Homo sapiens: one gene and its partner. The protein of the gene in region 1 purifies or fractionates together with the protein of each later gene. This does not show direct contact. Each region holds a gene or a part of one and is shown on either strand. Other genes may lie near its edges. The genes, in order: TRMT11 and GALC.

What was found.
Region 2: the proteins of TRMT11 (region 1) and GALC purify together in Homo sapiens (affinity purification with mass spectrometry; 2 studies listed by BioGRID and IntAct, with this or other methods). This does not show direct contact.

What each region holds. Positions count from the first base shown.
Region 1 is NC_000006.12:126,008,505-126,020,597, forward strand, and holds part of TRMT11 (tRNA (guanine(10)-N(2))-methyltransferase TRMT11), read left to right. Parts: intron 1-152; exon of another isoform or gene 153-241; intron 242-830; exon of another isoform or gene 831-930; intron 931-1,873; exon of another isoform or gene 1,874-2,135; intron 2,136-2,420; exon of another isoform or gene 2,421-2,687; coding exon of another isoform or gene 2,688-2,748; coding exon 2,749-2,913; intron 2,914-4,266; coding exon 4,267-4,348; intron 4,349-4,465; coding exon 4,466-4,597; intron 4,598-12,093. UniProt on the Homo sapiens protein: Catalytic subunit of the TRMT11-TRM112 methyltransferase complex, that specifically mediates the S-adenosyl-L-methionine-dependent N(2)-methylation of guanosine nucleotide at position 10 (m2G10) in tRNAs.
Region 2 is NC_000014.9:87,958,821-87,970,913, forward strand, and holds part of GALC (galactocerebrosidase isoform a precursor), read right to left. Parts: intron 9,671-12,093; coding exon 9,515-9,670; intron 6,810-9,514; coding exon 6,685-6,809; intron 6,679-6,684; exon of another isoform or gene 5,384-6,678; intron 5,324-5,383; exon of another isoform or gene 5,068-5,323; intron 4,692-5,067; coding exon 4,564-4,691; intron 1-4,563. UniProt on the Homo sapiens protein: Hydrolyzes the galactose ester bonds of glycolipids such as galactosylceramide and galactosylsphingosine.

The DNA of each region.
Region 1 (12,093 bases):
TTGCTGTGGTGCCAAATGTACCTTTAAACATACAGTTGACCCTGGAAGAACACAAGTTTGAATTGCACAGGTCCACTTATACTCAGATTTATTTCCATCTCTGCCCTCTTGAAACATCAAGGCCAATCCCTCCACTTCCTCTTCCTCCTCAGCCTGCTCAACATGAAGGTGATGAGGATGAAGACCTTTATGATGATCCACTTCCACTTCATGAATAGTAAATCTATTTTTACTGAATAAAGTAAGTATAACAGTAGGCTGTTAGTAGTTAAGTTCTGGGGGAGTCAAAAGTTATATGCATATTTTTGACTGTGTGAGGAGTGGGCACCCCAACCCCATGTTGCTCAAGGGTCAACTGTAGTTTTATATGGCATTATTTTAATCTTCAAATACAAAATTGTGATATAATTTTACTTGTTTTTATAAGACTTCATTGGGTATCTACTTTTATGATCCATTGTGTACAGAGTGATTTCCTGGGGGAACATGAAGGTGAATGAGAAAAAGTCCTGCTCTCAGAGGGCTTTAAGGAAGTGCAGGAAAGTGATAACCCAGTGACCAGTTCAGACCTATAATTTATTAATTATAACTAATTAATAAATATACATGATAATGAAACATATTTGGTTAAGATTATCACCACTCATTTAAAGATTATCACCAAAATTATTCACTAATCATACATTGACTATATACTGGATTAATAACTAGTCTTTGAGGTACTATTTATGTTTCTAATTTTATAACTGACCAAAACCTCTTTAAAGTAACTTTAAAGATTCTGCCTTGAACTGAGAGTACTTGAAACAGTCATCTGCTTTACTTTTCAGGTAATTATGGAAAATATTTTAAACTCTAGAAGCTTCAATAATGATGTGTGATTGGATGGAATTGAATCAAACTGAAAAAGTATTTCCTTATAGCTTAATGGTATTGAAAATGTCATTTTATTGATGATTTTGAGATTATTTGTGTTTATGTTGGTATTCATTATAATAACTGGGATCAGCCCTTATAATACTCTTTTCCTTTTCCTCACCCAGTATAAGTTATTGTATTGGTGAGCATTTATTATACTTTATTTTCTTTTGTGGAAGTAATTTGATATCTTGTACTGGTGACCTGTCTTTTTCCCTACCTTGACTGTAAAGAATTTAGTAACATTTATTAGGAAAATGAGTTATAATTTATTAGGTGTATATAAATGGGCTAGCAAGAAAAAGATATTCTTTATCTGAAATCTGTTTTAAAAAGTACTAAGAATTATTCCAATTTGCTTTTAGTAGAAGCAGTATATTTCTTTTAAGGAAATTGTCTTATATAATTTACTTGAATTTTTATTTATTAAAGTTATGTTTGGAAACTTATGTTGTAACCTTCAGTCTACTGGGGTAGAATTCTGATTGAGGTAGTTCCCTTAGAGCTTATCCAAGATACTGTTAGGTATACCCTCTGTTTCCTGTGGTTCTGAACTCTTACTTTATCCTAAAATATTCTCAAGTTTCTCCTGTTTTAAAAGTACAAAACTTTTTTTTTTGGCAAATCTGTAGAGGTTCTCTAGCTACCACTTTGTTTTCCTTTTCCATTTGCCAAAATGCTTCTTGAAAAACTAGTATAACTTCTTGTCTCCTCTTCTTCATCTTTCACTCTCTTCTGGCCATTATTTTCCAGCTTCTGTGCCTATCATTCTGTTGAAAACGCTAACAAAGGCCACAGATTTATAGCATTTGACAGTGTTGACCTTCATACAGCTGCTCTTGGTTTCCTTGACAGTGGTCTTGGCAGGTGGTACTTTTACTTTTTTGTTTCTTCTCAGTCTACTTGATGCCCTGCAATTTTCTTTGATTTATGTTTATATATTGTTTTTTTCCAGGCGTCTACCTATCTTTGAGCACTTCTCCGTCACACTGCATGTTTTTCAGAGTCATGTCGTTCTTCTTTTGATTTTATAAGAATAATTATAGAGCAAACATGTAACTGCCTCCTAAGTGAACAAAAAGAATGTTATTCAGCCTTATGGAGTCAGTATAAGATTATATGCTGATAACTCCAAAGTCTGTATATTCTGGCCTTCAACTACCTGCTGAATGTCCCCACTGCGTATCTTTTTCTGAAAGTTCTGCAGGTACCTCAAGGTACATCAAGATTGATATATCTTAAATGAATCTAATCTTTTTTCTTAAGCTTGTTTTTCTTCCTGGTTTCTCTGATATTAATCACTGGTGTCATCATCCTAAACTATCATGTCTCCTAAACAAGGAACTTACGAGCTTCTTTAGCCTTCCTTCCACTCCCACTTTAACTTTCATTAGCAATGTCTCCATTTTGCCTCCCTTCCTCATGGTCACAACTGCGGCATTTCCCAAGTTCGCTCTCTTCATTTCTGTTTCATTTATCTGATTCATACTATCTCTACACAGGACTGTTTACTGCTGGAAGAAAGGAACCATATTCTCTTCAACTCTATCTTACTACAAAAATCTTCGTACTTGAAAATATCGAATGAGTGTTTTAAGGCAGTTTTACTTGGAAGTTGACAGAACAAGATAAGTTAGACATCAGTACATTTTACTGTTATGTTGAAATTAAAATAACTATTTACTTGTATACATAAAATTAAGATTTTAAATGAAAGCAAATTTTGAATAAATGTAGGTTTCAGTGAGTTAAAACATTACTTTTCCTAAATGACAGAAAATAAGAATACTCTGTTTAATACTTTCTCTCTTCCTTTTTCTTTCCCTTCAGGAAAGGCTACTAGGAAAAACCAGAAGTGGAGAGGACCAGATGAAAACATTAGGGCCAATCTTCGTCAATATGGTTTAGAGAAGTATTACCTTGATGTCCTGGTTTCAGATGCATCTAAACCTTCCTGGAGGAAGGGCACATATTTTGATGCAATCATTACTGATCGTAAGTTTATTTTTATACAAAAGTAGGAGTAGGATTCGTTTTGTAAAATCATTTACATTTAAAGTACAAAATTTACCAACACATGCACAAAATGCCAACTTGTCAGTATTTCTCCCATCTACCCCCAGCTTCTTCATCTTGTAAGGAGAAAGTTATGAAGGTACTTAACTACCTTGTTAAGGGCTTACTGTTTTGTTTTTTTAAACAAATATATTGGCTTGCCATCCCCTGTTATATCCTTTTATATTAACTTGTCACCCGTTTTTCCCTTCAGCTTATTTTTTTGAGGCATATATTTAGTATTTGTTTTTGTATTGACTATAATTGGTTATTATACCAACTGGAGCTCACATGTCATTTGCAATTATGGTGTCAAATTTTGAACAGAGTTTCAGATATCACACATTTCTCTATGTGTAAGCATTTGTGTTTTTGTAGTGCCTGTTTTCACTGGCATCTCCTTTCTAGCATTACAAGAAATTTGGGGTTCTGTGGAACCACTGGGCCTGTGAACCTACTGAGCTTCAGGAATGTGCATGAAAATTTATTTTCCCATGCCTCATGAGGTCGTGAGTTTTTTAGGCAGCCTATCTAAGAATAGATCTGCCTTTTCTATAGTATTTGACAGTAAATCTGTAAAAAGTGGCAAAGTTCAGCCCTTCTATCTCAGCTCTCTTTAGTTCTTTACTAACTTAGATTTTGTCAAATGTAATGTAACAAAAGAAAAATTATCAAGGCCTTATGGTTTCAGTGTGAATATACTTTATGAAAATTTAGTTTTTTTTAAATTAACAGTTTGCTTTATTATTTGCTCTCCCACTCTGTGTTTACTTATATAAAATACATTTTTTTTTTCCGATCAACTTGAGAGTAAGTGGTATACATTGTGGCCTTTTACTCCTATACTTCAGTGTGTATTTACTAAGAATAAAGATAGTCTCTTAGCAAAAATACAGTTATCAAGTTCAGTAAATTGATAAAATACTTTCATCTACAGTTTGCCATTCAGTTTTGTCAACTGACTCAGTAATAGCTTTTATGGCATATATTCTCCCTCTAGGACAGGATCTACTCTAGAGTCAGGTATTGCATTTCGTAATGATATCTTTTAGGCCTCCTTTAATTTGTAACACTTCCACAGCTTTTCTCAATGACTTTTATGACATTGACATATTTTAAGAAGACAGTTGCTCCTCTCCCAAGTCTTTATGTTGTACATTTTCAGTTGGATTTGTGCATTGGTGATGTTGTGTTCTTCTCAGGGTGTCACATTTGAAGGCAGCATGGCTGTTTGCCCTTGATCCATGATTTGGTGACTTTTGACTATCTGTGTTACCTTTGTTTTCTGTCTAGCTCCATATGGTATCAGAGAATCTACAAGAAGAACAGGTTCACAGAAGGAGATACCAAAGGGGATAGAAAAATGGGAAAAATGGTAAGTGAAATTTAAATATGATGTGTTACTACCTTGAGAAGAGGCATGTGGCTTCCCCGTTAACTTAGCACTCTTAAAATTTTTCACTGATTTTGAAATTTTCTTTTCTTTGTGTAGTCCAGAAAGCCATGTTCCTGTTTCCTTGAGTTATCATCTGAGTGATATGTTTCTTGACCTGTTAAACTTCGCAGCTGAGACCCTCGTTTTAGGTGGAAGACTAGTCTATTGGTTACCGGTGTATACGCCAGAGTATGTAATCTTAATTTTATTTTTAATTTCATTTTTCTTACAATGTTTGCGTATCTAGTATAATTTTCTCTTTATCTCTTCTTGCATTTGGTGCATCTTTATATTTAATTTGTAATAGCCTTTGTTTGCCTTCAAATGTGTATAAAATAGTCTTTTTATTTATTTAGTTTTTTGAGACAAGGTCTTGCTCTGTCACCCAGGCTGGAGTGCAGTAGTGCAATCGTGACTCACTGCAGCGTTGACCTCCCAGGCTCAAGTGATCCTCCCACCTCAACCTCCTGAGTAGCTGGGACTACAGGCATGCGTCACCATGCTCAGCTATTTTTTATTTTTATTTTTTGTAGAGGTGGAGTCTCACTATGTTGCCCAGGTTGGTTTTAAACTTCTAGGCTCAAGCAGTCTACCTGCCTCAGCCTCCTGAAGTGTTGTGATTATAAGAGTGAGCCACTGTACTCAGCCTCCTTCTTTTCATCAACTGAATTGTTTTGACCTTGTTATTTTATATCAGGGGTTGGCAAACCACGGCCTATGGGCCAGATATGGTCCTCAGCCTGTGTTTATAAGGTTCTTGAGCTAGGACTAGTTTTTAGATTTTTGAAGTGTTGTTAAAAAATATCCACACAAAATAATGTGTGACAGAAACATACAGTATGTGACCCACAAAATCTAAAATATTTACTCTCTGGCCCTTTATAGAAAAAGTTTTGCCAGCCCTTATTGTACCCTACACTTAGCTTAGTACCTATGGATCACAGCTGTTTTATAGCTCTTTTGCCAGTCTATAGATGTAATTTTCAACAGCTTAGCTAAAGGATTCACGCTTCTGCTACCTTCTAATGCTAGCTTTAATATATATTGGCTATTATGATTATCTTAAGTACAATAAATCAAAAGCTAAGACCAAAATAAGAGCTGTGCATATATTTAAAGCCCTGATTATGTTCAGCATTATTGCTTTGAGTTTTGTTATTCAGTAACTATTAAATATAAAGCTATATATATTAACAGTAAAAGACAAGACGTTTGAACAAGATGGAATGTTTAAATTTGAAAGGTATTGCCAAGCTCAGTAGGTTATTTCTTCAATCTGACATAGATATATTTTTAATACAATTATTTTAATTCCTATATTTGTATTTGTATTTTATTTTATTTTATTTATTTTTTGAGACAGGGTTTCACTTTGTCACCCAGACTGGAGTACAGTGGCACCATCTCAGCTCACTGAAACCTCCACCTCCTGGGTTCAAGCGATACTCCCACCTCAGCCTTCCGAGTAGCTGGGATTACAGGTGCACGCCACCACGGCCCGCTAAGTTTTGTATTTTTAATAGAGACGAGGTTTCACTGTGTTGGCCAGGCTGGTCTTGAACTCCTGACCTCATGATCCACCCACCTCAGCCTCCCAAAGTGTTGGGATTATAGGCGTGAGCCACCGTGTCCGGCCAATTCCTATATTTATTATACATAATTATACAGTGGTAACTGTCTTTTTCTACAAAGATTGGTAGTCCCTCAGGCTTTGGGACCCTCAGCTATTTCTTGTTGTTTGTTTTACAAATGCTGTATTTAAAATTACCATGGCCTAACTCTAGTTATGCATTTCGTTATCAGCTGATAAGAGAGAATACATTTGTACCCAGATCCCTTAACACTGAGTTTTTTTTTGTTGCTAATGATCATCTCATTTAACCTCTTTTAGAAATGAGGAAACTTAATTCCAAGGAGTGAAATGACCTATCTAAAGTTAAAAGCCAGCTAGCTAATTTGTTTCCTTATTCCCAGTGCTGTATTCACTTAATTCGACATCCTGCCAGATCTCGTATACTTAGTACATGAAATGATAGGTGAGGTTTTATTAGTATTTTCAGATAAGAGTATATTTGTTCATGTCTTTGTAAAAAGGGTTGCTGCCTTAGCCAAACTGAATTCCAGCAACAAGCTACTTGCTTTTTGTTTAATTCAAGTTGTAGGGCTAAAATAAAAAAAAAAAAATACTGTGAAGTAATTTCAAACTTACAGAAGTTTCAAATACAATACAGAAAACTCCCATCTCTACCCTTATCCAGATTTTTCCAATATTAACATATATCTACCTCCCCCCGACTCCTGCACATATCTATTATCACTAATCTTTTTTTTGAGATGGAGTCTCACTCTGTCACCCAGGCTGGAGTGCAGTGGCATGATCTTGGCTCACTGCAAGCTCCGCCTTCCGGGTTCACGCCATTTCTCCTGCCTCAGCCTCCCAAGTAGCTGGGACTACAGGTGTCTGCCACTGCGCCCAGCTAATTTTTTGTATTTTTTTAGTAGAGACAGGGTTTTACCATGTTAGCCAGGATGATCTTGATCTCCTCACCTCTTGATCCACTTGCCTCGGTGCTGGGATTACAGGTGTGAGCCACTGCGCCCAGCCTATCACTAATCTTTTTGAAACCATTTGAGAAGTTGTTGGTATGGTGCCCTCTTACCTCTATATATGTCATTGTATTTTTCAGAAACAAGAACATTCCTATCTAACCATGATCCACCCTGCAAGTCTGGAAGTTAGCATTTATAACACTATTCCATGCAGATCAGAGACACCATTCAAATATTACCAATTGCAATCCATGTAGGAAACTGTGCTGTAATCATCTATCCTATCCTTTTTTGGTCTTCTGTGGTCTGGAATATTTTCTGTCTTTCCATATCTCTTGTGTCCTTGGAAGTTTTGTAGAGGACATGGCTTATATTCTGAGTGTTGACTCTCAACCGGGGCCATCTGATGTTTCTTCTATGACCAGAATGAGGTCATGCTTTCTTGGTAGGAATACCACAAACATGATCTTTGCAGCACATCATATGGCACACAAAGCCACTCCTCCTGGTAATGTTAACTTTGATTGTCTGGTCGGGCTCTTCTCTGTCAGATTTCTCCTCTCTGAATCATCATTTTCTTCTTTGATTTGTATTTTATGGGGAAATAAGATTACACTAATATCTTGTTTTTCATCAAACCACTACTCAGATTAATGACTCCATTGTTGACAGCCACTTCTGAGGTGGTTGCCAAGTGATTCTTTTTTCCATCATTTCTTTTGCATTTGTAAGTTGGTATTCTGTAAGAAAGAGCTTTTCTTTCTGCCCCATTTACTTCATTAATTTATTTATAGTGGTATGGAGTCATGGATTCCTATATTATTCATTGGGTTGTAATTTATTAGTAGCAGTATTTTGTTGCTCAAATTGTCCCAGATTTGACCAGTGGGAGTTTGTTTGAGCTGGCTCTTCTGTCCTTTTGAAATATCCTCAGTAGTTTTTTATGTAAGTCCTTCCTTTTTAGCATATCTGACTGTTCACTGTTTTGCAGTTTATTATTTAATTATAATCAAAATCATATGTGGTTGAGAATTTATTTTGGAGTTCTTTTATTCCTTTATAAAAAGTAATATTGGAGGTTCTTTAAACTGAATGTATTTCTAAAGACTTTAAAAAGTGGCCACTGGATATTTCTTCAATGACTTCTCTATTTTAGTAATTTTAGATGAGGGAAGATTTCCAAATACATATAACCAAAGTGATGTTTTAGAAAGGGAAAAGGGAGACATGTTTTAGGGATTTTTTTTTTTTTGTCTTAGATGTTTTATCAATGGATAGATTTCTTCTAGTTACGTGTCTAACACATGTGGGAAGACAATGGTGGCATTTATTTCCCTGAGTTTTTGGCCCCTGGAGAGGGTTATTTTCAGATCCCCTGATGTTCATTATTAGACCTCAATTGTGTCTTCTCTCTTTAAGCCTAAAGCGATCTTATTAATTATTAATAGTGAACTAAATTTGTCTTGAGTTTATGCTAGAAACATGAACTGTTTTCATATTCAAGGTCTTTACTCTTTTGAAAATTCTTTACTGTTTTGAAAATAACACAGTATCAAGATGAATTTGAGTCTAAAGTCATCTGTAAAAGTTTGAAATAATATTCATTTGAATTAAACAGTTTAGAATAGTTTAACTATGTTATATTGAAAATGTAGCTTTATATTGGACCGGGAATAAAAAGGAATTCAATTTACAATTGTACCTTAGTGTAGCTTAATTTTAAGTCTTTTGTATTTTTGGTGTGGTGAATGTAGGCTATTAGTTCTATTAATGAATTAATTTACTCTCAGCCAAACCCTGTTATATGATTCAAGTTACACATTATAACCAAGTTCAGGTATTATTTTAACCCAGGATTGATTGAAAAGTATAAGACATAAAAGCAAAATACTGCGTAAAAGCTTAGTTGTATATGGAAAATTGTGAGAGCTAATGATTGAAAAGGATTTTCTCACTGTTTGACAATTTAAATTGCAGTAAAGAAACTGCTACTCAGAAACTTCTGCTGTTCTTTTTCCTTCTAGTCTACACTCTCCCCACTCCAGTATATCAGACTTTTTGCCAGCATCAAGATACTCTGTGCATTTTATGTCTTTTCACTTTTGTTTATTCTGTCCCCATTGTTTGAGATGCCCTTTCTTCTTTCCTCAACTGGTAAAAATCTAGTCATTTTTCTAGGCCTGGCTTAATTGTCACCACTTCTGTGACACTTTCTCAGATACTTCTCAGCAGAATTAATCAGTCCATCCTCTGTGCTCTCATAATAGCTTGTTTTTACTGCTTATAGAGACTTAACACATAAAATTACTGTAGACTGTTGGTATTTGTGAGTTTATTATTTACAATTTTGACTACTTACAAATGACCCAGATTATGTGTTGCAATCATGTGTACAGGGCATCAATCCAGTGTGTACACATACAATCCAGGTGTTTGATGTCATAGGAGCCAGTGTGCTACTGAGTGAGTGTAGCTGTTTGCCCAGGCTCCATATATCCATTTAGCTTTATCTAATTTCATTGTACACAGATAACTCTTGAAGTGATTAGAAACAGTGTTTCTTTATAAATGATGACCTTTATAGAAATCCAGCTGCTAGTGTTAGTGATAACATGATGACATACTTATATTAAAATAGCACATTGTACCCCCCAAATATGTACAATTATAATTCATTAATTAAAAATTTTTAAAAAGGTGAGAAAGAAGCTAATAATGTGCCCCAAAGTAGGACTTGGAAATAAATTTTGATTGTAGTAAGGTGAACTTTGCAGTGCCTATAATGAGTGAAGAGAACATGTTTTTCATCTCTTACTTAGGAAAGAGGAAAAAGTGATTTTTAAGCTGTTTTTAGTAAATGTTCAATCAATGCAAAATCTGTTTCTCAAATGGGAGCTGAAATTCTAGTGACATTTGGGAAGTAGTTGAAGCAGGAAGATTCACAGGAAAATGAGTGACAGTCAAAATTGATTCGTGGAAAATCTAGGGGCCTATGTACACAATTATTTTTTTTTAATTGACATAGAATTTGTATACCATGAAATTCACCCCCTTAACGTATACAACTTCATGGTTTTTAGTTTATCCACAAAGTTGTGTGACCATCACCACTAGGTAATTCCAGAACATTTTCCTCACCCCCGAGAAGTACCCCACAGACATTAGTAGTTACCACCCCCCTATCTCTGTCAACCACTTGTCAATCTCTGTGGATTTGCCTATTAAGGATGATTTAGTTTTTAAATAGATAACTTGGATTGTAGGGGGATATTAATAAAAACAGGGAATTAAGATGGGATTTAGTACTGTCATAATGGTCCAGGCAAAATATAGATTTATGCCTTCTACTTAACCACTTGCGAACATTCCATTGGAATGAAATATATTGGTAAATATACAGTGAATAATTTTATTTTACTTTATTTTATTTTTTTTTTGAGACAATTTCGCTCTTGTTGCCCAGGCTGGAGTGCAGTGGCGTGATCTCGGCTCACTACAACCTCCACCTCCCAGGTTTGAGCGATTCTCCTGCCTCAGCCTCCCAAGTAGCTGGGATTACAGGCATGTGCCACCATGCCTGGCTAATTTTGTATTTTTAGCAGAGACGGGGTTTCACCATTTTGGCCAGGCTGGTCTTGAACTCCTGACCTCAGGTGATCCACCTGCCTTGGCCTCCCAAAGCACTAGGATTACAGGCGTGAGCCACCACGCCCAGCTGAAGAATTTTTTAACTGCTATTTTTTAATCTTTTTAGTATGGTGCTTTGGGAGTGTATTGTTAAATTAATTGGCTCATTAATATAATAGATTAATTGTTAAAAATGAATTAAGATCGAGTCAAAAAAGATAATATGAAACATGCAAATATGTTTTTCTGCTGTTAAAACCAAATGCAGCAACTTAGTTTAGCAGTTTAGCGTCATTCATGTCATAGATGTTAATTAAAATTGTGTTGGTACCTTGGATTTGATTGATAAATTTGCTTTTTGGGTTTTATAGTTATATTAGGGATCTAAACATGAAGAGTTTATATCTAATTTATGCTTGTGCATATTTAAGTGACACCTTAATAAAAAAATACTTTAAGTCAGTCCACCAGGAAGTAAAAAATTTTTTTCCTTTAAAAATTAGTATATTACTTAGTTTGACACAAACTGTTTCCAGCATCTATAGATCCTACGGTTTGCAAGCTTAAGGTTAAGGCTATATCTTCTCTCTGTTAGCACTTTTTATTTTAGTCTCAACCATGGTGTAGAATATATTCTTTCTACTGTACTCCAGCCTCGGCAACAGAGCAAGATCCGTTCTCTGAAAAAGTAAAAAAAGAATTTATTCTTTCATGTCATAAATGCATTGCATGAAGATTCAAAATTTGATGTCATTGTTATAAGAAGTACAACATTTCTGGCTATGTAGTGAACATTAAAGAATTACTAGATGAGGTGAAATCTGAAGTGCTCATTACTTGTTAGAAAGCTCTAGGAAGAAGTCAGAGAATGACTTCAAGATAATTCTTTCCACTGATAATAAAGTGAAGTGCATTATGAATGATGCTTGGGAAGTGGGTGATGATGGGTTTGAGCATATGGTTGAGGTAATAGGGAGAGCTCGTTGAAGGTCAGTGGGACCTAGAAAAGTTCATGAAAGAGTGGTGGTGAAAACAGTGTTGATGCATTAAAACAGGTAGCTGAGATTGTGGTCCTTTACATGAAAAACTAATCAGCACCTTTGCTATTTTGGAGCAGACCTTTAAGATTACCTGTATAATAAATGTGTGCAGACACCATCCAAAAAGGTGTAAAAAATTGCAAAGGAAAAATAAATACTGGCCAACACAGTGTTCTTAAAAGTACCCATGCCTAGTGAGTCCCCTCCCTTGCTGTTCTTTCACATTCTGTTCCATAGCTGTTTCTCCCACCTCTGTTACCTATTTCTTTGGCCAAGATTGATGCTAACAACCTGTCAGATGCCAGATTCTGAACTCCTGCTATTGACTCCTGCTTTCTAGACATTGTCATCATCTTCATCCATGTAGGACATGTGCTGTACAGTAGCAGTCTCCACCACTCATTGGCATATTTTCATTTTGTTTCCTGGTTCATATGACCAGAAGACTGATGTAATCTGTAGTGTTTA
Region 2 (12,093 bases), on another chromosome or scaffold:
CTCTCACAATATACACAGTCAACTCAAAATTGATTACATACTTAAATATAAAACCTGAAACTATAAAACTAGAAAAAAAACAAAGGGAAAGTGCTTTATGACAATGAGCTGGGCAAGAATTTTTTAAATAAGACCTCAAAAGCACAGACAACGCAAAAATAGACAAAGGGGATGACATCAGACTGAAAAGCTTTTGCACAGCAAAAGAAACAAAGTAAAACAGCCTACAAAATGGGAGGAAATATTTGCAAATTATACATGAGACAAGGGGTTAATATCTAGACTATGTAAAGAACTTAAACAACGACAACAAAATAGCCCAGTTTAAAATTGGGCAAAAGACTGTAATAGACATTTCTCAGAAGAAGACATACAAATGGCCAATGGGTACATGAAAAAATACTCAACATCACTAATCATCAGGGAAATGCAAATCAAAACCACAATGGGATATCACTTCCCTCTACTTAGAATGGCTATTACCAAAAAAACAAAAGAAAACAAGTGTTGGTGAGGATGTGGAAAAAAAGAAATACTTACTTCATGTTGTTAGGGTTGTAAATTGGTACAGCCACTATAAAAAACAGTGTGGAGATTCCTAAAAAATTAAAAATAGGCGGGGCACGTGGTGGCTCACGCCCATAATCCCAGCATTTTGGGAGGCTGAGGCGGGCAGATCACTTGAGGTCAGGAGTTTGAGACCAGCCTGGCCAACACGGTGAAACCCCGTCTCTACTAAAAATACAAAAATGAGCCAGGTGTGGTGGCAGACGCCTGTAATCCCAGCCACTTGGGAGGCTGAGGCAGAAGAATCACTTGAACCCAGGAGGCAGAGGTTGCAGTGAGCCAAGATTGCACCACTGTACTCCAGCCTGGAAGTGCAGAGTAAGATTCTGCCTCAAAAAAAAAAAAAAAAATTAAAAGTAGAACTACCATATGATCCAGTAATCCCACTACTGTGTATATATCCCCCCAAAATAAAATATATATGTTAAAGAGGTATCTGCACTCCCATGTTTATTAAAACACTATTTACAATAGCCAAGATATGGAATCAACCTGAGTGTTCAACAATGAATGCATGAATAAAGAAAATGTGATATATATATACACAATGGAGTACTATTAGTCATAGAATGAAATCCTGATATTTGCAACAAATGGAGGAATATGGAGGATATGATGTTAAGTGAAATAAGCCAGACACAATAAGACAAATACCTCATGATCACACTTACATGTAGAATTAAAAAAAAAGAAGAGTTGATATCACAGATGCAGAAAGTAGAACAGTGGTTACCAGACACTGGGGTGGGGCTGGGAAGGGAAGGACAGGAAGAGGTCGGTCAACGGGTACAAAGTAACTATTGGACAGGAGGTGTAAGTTGATATCACAGATGCAGAGAGTAGAACAGTGGTTACCAGACACTAGGGTGGGGCTGGGAAGGGAAGGACAGGAAGAGGTCGGTCAACAGGTACAAAGTAACTATTGGACAGGAGGTGTAAGTTCTGGTGTTTTCTTGCACACTAGGGTGAAGACGGTTAACAGTAAGGTTTTGTGTATTACAAAACAGCTAGAAGAGAGGCTTTTGAATGCTTTCATCACAAAGGAATGATAAATTCATGAGGTGATGGGCATACCCTGATTTGACCATTATACCACATGTATGTATCAAAACATCAAATTGTACCCTGTGTCAATAAAAAATAAAAATATGACAAAGTTGAAATACTCACATTTCCTCACTTCAAAATTTATCAGACAGCTACAGTACCTAAGACAGTGTGGTGCTCACGTCAGGACAGATATATAAGTCAACAGAAAAAAATTGAGGTTCTAGAAATAAACCCTCAAATTTATTGCCAATTGATTTTCAACAAGGATGCCAAGACAATTCAATGAAAAAGGAATAGTCTTTTCAAAAAATAGTGCAGGGACAACTGGATATTAAAATGCAAGAGAATCAAGTTGGACACACATATAACCCCAGTTAAGAAAGAAAATGGACCAAAAACCTAAATTTAAGATTTAAAACTCTAAAACTCTTAAAGGAATACATAAATATAAATCTTCAGAACCTTGAATTAGGCAATAGCTTCTTAGATATGACACCAAAAGCACAAGAAACAAAAGAGAAAACAAAGTGGGCTTCATCACAATTTAAAACTTTTTTTAATTCAAAGGGTACCATTAAGAAAATGAAAGACAACCCATACAAAGGGAGAAAATATCTGCAAATTATATTTCTGATAAGGAATTTTTATATAGAACAAAGAACACTTATGACTCAATAATAAAAACACAAATATCCCAATTTAAAAATGGGCAGAGTTTAAATAGACATTTCTCCAAAGAAGATATACTACTAGCCAATAAGCACATGAAAAGATCCCCACATCATTAGTCCCTAGGAAAATGCATATTGAACTACAATAACATAGCACTTCACATTCACTAGGATGGCTATAATCAAAGGCATGGACAGTAAGAACTGTTAGGGAGGATGTGGAGAATTGTAAGTTTCATAAAACTGCTGGTGGCAATGTAAAATGGTGCAGTAACTTTGGAAAACAATTTGGTAGTTCCTCAAAATCCTAAAGACAGAGTTACCATGTGACCCAGCAATTCCACTCCTACATACATACCCAAGAGAACTGAAAACACGTTCACAGAAAAACTTGTACACATATGCTAATCCACACCATTAGTCATAACAGCCATGATGGGGTTCAAGACACACTCCCCGCAAATATTTTAAAGTGAAATAATTTGAGAAAAATGTAGAAGCAGGAAGTTTACTCTCTGACCTTCTCCTTTCTCCTCTGAAGCAGGTCATAAGACCCTCACTCAACAGGTGCTCTCCCTATTTTCCTTATCTCTGAAGACAGTTTCTGGTGAAGAAGATGAGATGCCTACTCACTCTAAGAGCCTGCAGATGAGATCCTGAGACACTGACAAAAAGGTGGCAGAAAGGTTAAGAATTCTCACCAAGGCCTGCTCTTCTGGATCTCTGCCTGAAGTACCCGATCGAGAGAAGACAATTAAACAAACAAACAAACAAACAAAAACCTCCTCATCCCTTCCTCTCCAAATGCAGATTCGCAGAAGAAAAACATTCGTTTGGTTTGTGATTCCTGTATAAATTTAGTTTTGGGTGCTCATTACCTGTAGATCCCTTCCTTCCCAGGGTCAGCTATTGCTTTCCTATTTGTCTCATTTTGTGTACTGAGAACCTGGCTTGACTTCCCACCTGTTAGGGATGTGTGAGCTGTCAGTTTTGTGTATGCAGGCAGCCAACTTCAAGTTGGGGGCCCCAAGAATATAACCAGACAAAAATGTGATTCGCACCCTATTTGCAGCCAGTTTACCAACTATCGCCAGCTCTGACAGGGAGTGGGGAGTAGGGAGGTTATCTGGGTCTTTCTTTTGACTATCCTTGGGAGTGGTTCTAGGTCTTTGGAGGATCACTTCTCAACCTTTTGACTACGATGAAGTGTAGATTCTGGGAGGGCTGCATCTTTTTACACCCTCTTTTGAGGATCCTCTTCATCCACGATAAGACATAAAAGGCTTATTGGTTTGTGTTGTGAGTCACTTAATAGACACCTTTGGTTTGAAAAGGTCAATACTGCCAGGAATATTTACTGTTTGTCCTGGCTCAAACCTGATAGTAGGATATTTGAAAGAATTTGTTTTTTAAGAGTCTATGGTCAGGAGTTGGCCAAACTGTAGGCTGACATTCAGAACCTGATATGATACACACACACACACACACACACACACACACACACACACACACACACCATTTTTTTAAGGCTACTCTGTTCTCTGTTTTGGATCTTGCTTCTCCCATGGGAACTTAGTTGCTAGAAATCCTTCTTCACAAAGCCCTGCTGACTATATGCACTTCCTATTCTGTCTACCTCCTTCTTGTTGGAACTTCATTGACCTCTTTGGGAAGCTTGAGATCTCCCCACACTGGCACCTCTCAGACTTCTTCTTCTCTCCACTGGCTTCTGCTTCTGCTTCCATGTTTTTTCACCTTCATTCTTTCATTCAGTTCCCTTGAATCCTTGATATGTCTGCTTTCAAGCCCCTACCTCCTCCCATGCCTCTGTCCACCTGTCAGACCTATTCCCTTCCTACTCAAGCCCCTCAATCACTTGAATTTTAAGCTCGTTGCTCTCAACAGACTTAAGGTCTCCCCAAAACAACCTGAGGATGAAAAAGGAAAAAGCCACAGCCTCCATATACATATCAGGGCAAGGGAAGGTCGTGAAGGTCGTCTCCACAAATATTGGTACACAGGTAACCTTAATTTTATCCCAACTGCCAGGAACAAAGTGGAGAAAAGATGAGAGCCAACTATTTTGTACAAATCAGTGAGTTGTGTGCTATGTTTTACGACTCATGGCTAAAATTTTTTAAATGAAAGCCATAAGATCTTGGCATCTGTCTGTATGCTTATGTATTTACATGTAAAACAAAAGTATTCAGTTTTATATTTTATTTTTCCAATAGTAAAGAAGTGAGTTAATCCAATAGCAACAACAAAAGTTTACCATGGTTTCAATGATGATGGTGAGGTTCCCTAAGCCATCAGTCAGAGCTACGTAGCTTCCTCCTTTCTCTAAATGGCCAACTGTCTTCAGGTAATACCAGCCAGGTTGAGTAAACTGAGTGGTATGAGCTATAGAAAAACAGAAAGTTCCAAATAAGACAAAAATGGTAATAATAGTATTTCTTTTGGGAAAAAAAAAAAGCTGTATATCAATTTGAGTCTGATTCATCCAAACAAGCTATTTTCTATTTTGCAGGAATATATCCGTCAACCTCATGTTTAAATTTTTAAATAATTAATCTAGATAAATGGTACAATTGCAAGAAGATTCCTGGAATGATGGGTAAAAATAAATGAACCTGTCAGTTCAAGAATATGATCAGTCTTTTTTTTAAGAATAAAATAGTTATTCCCCCCCCAAACTTGGTTCATCACTATTTAATCCATCCTAAAATAGCTACCAAAAAAAGGTTTAAAAAGTTAATAATGAATTTCAGAAACTAACTTTATGGTTTCAAACATATTTATTTCCACCACATGTACATTTATTGGTCACCTCCTAAGCTCGTCCTGAAAATGCACTAAGCAATATACCATGTCCCAACCCTTGGAAAAATCACAAAATTAAGAGTACATTAGTTCATCTAGATAATGTGGGGCCAACAATTTCAACATTCAAGGCGCTGATATACAAGTCTAACCTTAATTTTCTCATATAATTCTCAATATTAGAATATACAAGTCCAATATACAAGTCTAACCTTAGTTTTCTCATATAATTCTCAATATTAGAATATACAAGTCCAATATACAAGTCTAACCTTAATTTTCTTATATTTTTTGGAGGACAATTTAAGGAGTTTAGAATAATATCATGATTACATGATTAATATGATTACAAATCTGTCTTAGGAGAGCACAACTAAAAGGGAAAACCACCAAATTTAAGTTTAAAATAAAAACAAATTCACTCCAAATTCATAATTTTCTTCTGAAAGCATTTTACCTTTAAAGAAATTAGCTTTTTAGAAAGATTGTTAGAATTTTAAAACAAAATGGTAATAAATGTTTATAATCTTTTACAAAAAAACTGCAGAAAAGTTTCAACATTATTCAGCAATAGATTTTGTTACTTTGTTTAAAATATAATCACTATTAGTATGGTTATTATCTCCTCATGAAAAAGTGACACTATGCCATCCATCCCTGCATAATCTCAATTTCCCTTGTGACTAATGAATGATACTGTAGTAAAACTTTTGTGTTTCAATAAAAACGGATGTATTATCTATAGCCCTGTTCATTGTCTCTGAGCTATGTAAATTATGTCTTGTCTGGTAGAAATTTAATTAATTTCTTCCCTGTTGTGGGAAACCCAATTTGCCTCCATTGACAATTCATCTCCAATTCCCTTACACTACGAAAATTTGTGCTATGTTGACTTTTCATTTCAACTGTTTCTAACATCTACCATCTATCTGCCAGGATCCTTCATATCATATGAGTAACATAAAATCTTCAGTACGTGCTCACTTTTAAAATCTTTTGAGCTTTACATTGTTACCTATTTTGAAATTTACCTTTTCACAACCCACATTTCACAGATTTAGGGGACAATATAAAGCCATATTTCACATAACTTTCATATTTACTTATTCATTTGATGATTCAATAATACAGTATTTTTAATCATCTCCCTTTGATTTTGCTAGCATACGATTGTAATTGAAACTCTATTAATATAAGAGAACAAAATGTCTTCAAAGCTAATCTTAAGACTTCTACTCTGTTTATAAATACATAATCTTATTAGCAATTATCATCATTTGTAATTATATCCTTAGATGATTATTTATTTGTGTCTCTATCACTACACAGCTCCTCCTTTTCCTCTCTCTCCCCCTCCTCTCCTACACTTTTCTAAAAGCCTGGTCTTAGAATAATCAGAGAGTAGTCTAGTTACCCAAAATATTCTTATAAAACACTGGCAAATCTTGCTTAAAACTTAAATCTATACTTAAAACACGCATAGACACACAGTTTATATAATCTTCTCTAAGTTTTTTTCTGCTTTGTCTCTTAGAGAAGAATTTAGGGAGTGAGAGATGGAACTGAACCATACCTGATACCCAGACAGGAGATTCTACCACGTAGTGCCCACTCCATGGCTCCTGGGCCGTCATCAACCCGCATCTCCCATAAGGCAACTGTTCATAGTAACTAGCCACTAAATTCCATGCGATTGTGCTAAAAGATTTGATAAAAAAGAAACACCAAGACAACTTGTGATAAAAATGTAAATGTCTAAAAACCTGGAGTAAAAAGACTTTATCATAGTAATACACATCTACATAAATGACAATAAAAGGATCACCCAAAATAAGAAAATATAAGTTGTCTAAATTTATTCACATTTTGAAAAATCCAGTGTGGGGTACATTGTAATATTTTTAATGGTGAATCACATGATAAAAAATACAAATGTATTATGTGCAAATTTTTACTGAACTGTGGTATAGCCAGAAGACGAATCATGCCTTACCAATACCCAACACATCACAAATTTGAGTCAAATACAAATAAAGGCTTTGTGCATACCTACTTTCCTTTCAACAGTCAGCCTTCTTAATGCCCCAGTTTTATGACATAATTTTTATGAACTTGACTCTGAACTGTTCCAAAGTTTTACAATTGAGAATTATTGGAGTCAGACTGCCTGGGTTTAAACCATGGTTTCACCACTTAACCTCTCTGTAAAATGAGGATAATAATTATATCTCTCTCACGTGAGTTTGTAAGGATTAAATGTACTAATGCATAGGAAGAGTATGGAACAAGGTCTGGGCCGTAGTATTGCTATTAAATATGATTCCACTTCATCTATAAGTAGTAATTGGATCTAATTGCTGATCTGCTTTGTGGCCCATTCTTTCTCAGATGATCAGGCCCTAACAGTCCAGAGCAGGTGCTAAACCCTAAAACTTTGACTCTCTGCTTCTCAGGAAATCCAAGGACAAAAGGGAAGTTATTGAACTTGGTATTGTTGGGTCCCTCACAGATTAAAAAAAACAAAGCTTACCCACAGAATTTTATTTTTCCTATCAAGTCCTCATCCAGTATAAAAAAAAGAGACTGACATTCTTAGCAAATCAAAGCCTTCTAATTCTATCAGTACAAAGTAGAAATAATAGTCCTAATTTTCAAAACACCTTACTACTAGTGAATATTTTAAGTTCTTATAATTTTGCCCATGGTTTGCAAGATGTGTGGTATCCTTTCTGGCTAGTGATAGATGTATAACTCAAGACAAGCTTTCTGGAGGGCATTTTGTAAAATACATACAAAACCCTTCAAAATCTATGTATTTCTGACCATTCCATTTCTAAGAATACAGCCTAAGAAAATAGTCATGGGCATATACAAAGATATTTGTATACAATTGAACATTTCAGTTTGTACAAAGCTATTAATTAAAACAGAGACAACTTCCAATTCTAAAAGAGGAGAATATTCAATAAACAATAATATATTTTCCACATCAGTGTTTCCCAACTTGTGTGGCATCAGAATCACTTGAGGGCACTGACTAGATGGACAGAATACCAGGAGCCTTCCCTGTAGATTCTGATTCACAATGTCTGGGCAGCTGCCAAGGAGAAGGTATAACAACGAGTGTCTCGGGTGCTTCTTAAGGCAAGTCTGGGAAATGGTGCTTTATGTAACAAAATATTTTAAAATGCATTAAAAATGATGAAGTAGAAATATAGGTAAATGTGAGAAAAAGTTCCTAATGTCGTCTCAAGTGAAAAGCAGTTTTTTAAACAGATTCTATAGTATGGTCTCAATTTTGTATTTAAAATGTATACATGCCAATATAAAACAGGAGGACATTCACTAAAAATGTTTAGGATGGTTAGCTCTGGATCATAAGACTGTAGGTGATTTTGCTTCTTTCTTTGTACCTATCTTCAGTTTTCTAAATTCTCTGCCATGAAGATGCCTTACCTTTAAGACCAAATTAAGTTATAACCAAACTCTCCTAAGTGTCTTTTCTTTCACAAAGAGAAGAAAAAGAACAAATACAATATACAGCAACCCACATTAACATCACAACAAATACATAAATATTGGTTTGTTTTTGTTCTATTTATCATTGTTTAAAAAAAGCTAATTGGAATCTATTCACAATTCAAGTGTTTTTCAAAGCATTTAAGAAATGCTTCCCTTAGGAACAAAAATAGTTGTGTTCTCCCTTAAGAACATCTGTTTTTTAAACAAACAATTACACATATCAAGTGATGCCATGAGGAATCAATCAGACAGGCTGGGAAGCAGACAGTCCACAACACAACCAGCCTGGTCTTTTCAACAGATCACTGTCATCAAAAATGAGGAATAAGGAAACCACTCTAGATTAAAGGAGACTTGAGGGGTGTAACTTTTAAATGCAATATGTGTGTGCTTGACTATTCCTTTTCTTTAAAAAAGCTACAAATGACATTTTTGGGAAACAATTAGGAAAATCTGAATATAGACTGAGAATTAAAAACACTCTCATGTATGAAAACATGATACTGTGATCATGTAAAAGAATATCCTTATGTTTTGGAGACACATGCTAAAATATTTAGAGATAAAGTGTCCTTACATATACTATTTACTTTATAATTATTAAAAATACAAGTAGCTTGTCAAAAATCAGAGAGCTGCATGTATTTTGCTACATATAAATTATACCTCAATAAACCTGACTTTATTTAATATAGACTATATTCAAATATAGAAAATTAGATATAGATTAGGTATAGGTATACAAATAGATGACGCTAACAAGGCAAAATGTTTACAATCATTGAATCTAGGCTGGAAGAATAAGGAATTCCATTTTTTTCTAACTCTTATGTTTTTAAATTTTTTTTGATAAGAACTCTAAAAGGTTTTTAATAACTTACGAAGTCATATAGCCATTGATATAATTCTGATTTAAAATGCGACCCCAGCAGCCTGCACCCATGTCACTATTTAAAGTGCTAAAGTCTTCAGAAGACCAAAGCTTCTTCCCAGTCAACTTTGCATCTTTTGCTGAATGGGTTCCAGGATAATGAGCCCTAGAAAAAAAAAGGGTGGAAGTCAATGAAAAAAGGTCACGACGTGGCACTTATATACGTATAGATTTGTTGAGTATATAAAAATACGAGTCTTCTCCAAGGTTTTCTATTTTAAAACAGTTGGGTAGCTTCCAGGTAGATAATGAATCTAAGCATCTGCTTTATGCCCTTTTGTCTCAGCATGCCATTAAAATGACAGCAAAGAAAACAAAAGGGGATAAACCTACAACAGCATACAGGATAGGAAGGAAAATCATCAATAGATAAGAAATTTCAATCTATTTCTGGAGCTCACAAGATGGATGGAAGCATGTTGAAGGATGGAGGTAGCAGAGAGGGCCACAGCCTAGAACACTCCAAGAGGAGAATGAAGTAAAGATAAGATTCAGACTTCCCAGGGGAAGCTAAGGAGCTTGGGGCAATAGTAAACGAGTGAGGAGGAGGCCAAAAATAAGACTAGTGAAACCTTTATATAAAGTAGTACTCTCCCCACTACTCCTGTCCTTAGAACACAGAAAGATAGCTTGGCATTTACTCCCAGGCCAAAAACAAAAAACAAAACCCACACATGGTTATTTCTTGAATAAAAAGAATAAGCTACCTTGGGAAAACTAAATTACTGTATCAGAGCAGTGGCGGTTCTCAACCCAGATGATTTTTGTCCCTGGAGGGAATATTTGGCACTATCTGTAGACATTTTTTTCAACCGTCCCACCTGGGGTCAGGGATATTTGCTACTAGCATCTAGAGAAGAGAGGCCAAAAATGCTGCTAAACATCCTACAATGCACAGGACCAACCCCTACAACAAAAAAATTATCCATTGAAAATATCAATAGTGCAGCAGGTGAGAAACTGCCCCAGAAAATGAATGCCTCCTTCACTCTATCATTCGATGGGAGGGGAGTCAGTTGGTGGAAGTATAAATGCATATTCATTACTGCAAGAGTAAAATACTCCCATAATGATGATTGTGGAAGACACTGATTATAGGAATAAAAACAATAAATTTTAAATGTAAAATAGAAAATAGATTGACAATCCAATAAGAGAGCACACTAGCTAAATAACTGTAGGAATAAGAGCATCTACTTTTTAGTTTAAAAATTATTTACAAAAAACAATGCAAGCAAAATAATGGAGATTAAGTTATATCATAATTCTAATCTTTGTAGTTTGGTGTAGTAGTATTTATAACATCAAAAGAATGATTGTGAATACTTGTTTTACTTTTTAGTTATTTAATTCCCTTTTAGGTCACAAATCTTTTAGGAAAAAATCCTATTTGGTAATTCTTTATACCTAGTGAAGATGAATTAGGGCACAATATCAATTTGGCATCCCAGGATTTCATGAGTAAGAAAATAATATACAATATATACTGGAGAACATAAAAAGAAGTATTAGAGAAAAATGAGGTTCCACTAAGATTTTACTGAGTCACTAAACTCAGGTGAAAGCAGGCATCTATTCAATATTGCAAATCTACACTACAAAGATACCAACAGAAATCTAGCATCTAACAGGGTTAAGCAATCATTGTTCTGGAACTATAACGCCCAACCTGAAAAATCTGGCTACTAGTCTTTTAAATAATATAAATTCAAAAAATTACACTTTAGATTTATTCTTCTATCCCACAACTCCATTCTATTTCCATGAAATTCAGCTTTGGTACCTCAGCCAAATGTTAATTTTTAATACTCATCTAGTTGTCATCCAGTTGTCTAGTTGCCAAATGCATGTTTGGTGTATTTGGTTAAAATATATTTCTATATTAAAGAAAACACTGTAAAGTAATATGCTAGCATGTTACCAATAATCAGTAGATGTTAGGATTATGAGGAAATTCTATTTTTATACTTTTCTACATTTTCCAAATTTTCTATAATGAGCATATTATATTTATAAAATGAAAAAGTAACTTTATTGAAGTTATAGGAATAGGTGATATATCCTTCATTCAGAAAATGATGAAACTGTTACCACATTCAAAACCCAAATGATTTATTACATGATATGAGCAAAGAAAGGCAGAACTAATACTAAAATCTGGGTCTTTCTTAATGTATAGATTTATTACTAGTGCAACAAAATGTAAAGGCTCTTTAAGAATATAAATTTTTATTGGGAGGCCAAGGCGGGCGGATCACGAGGTCAGGAGATTGAGACCATCCTGGCTAACATGGTGAAACCCTGTCTCTACTAAAAATACAAAAAAAAAAAAAAATTAGCCAGGCGTGGAGGTGTGTGCCTGTAGTCCCAGCTACTTGGGAGGCTGAGGCAGGAGAATGGCATGAACCTGGGAGGCAAAGCTTGCAGTGAGCCGAGATTGCGCCACTGCACTCCAGCCTGGGCGACAGAGGACAGAGTGAGACTCTGTCTCAAAAAAAAAAAAAAAAAAAAAGAATATAAATTTTTAAT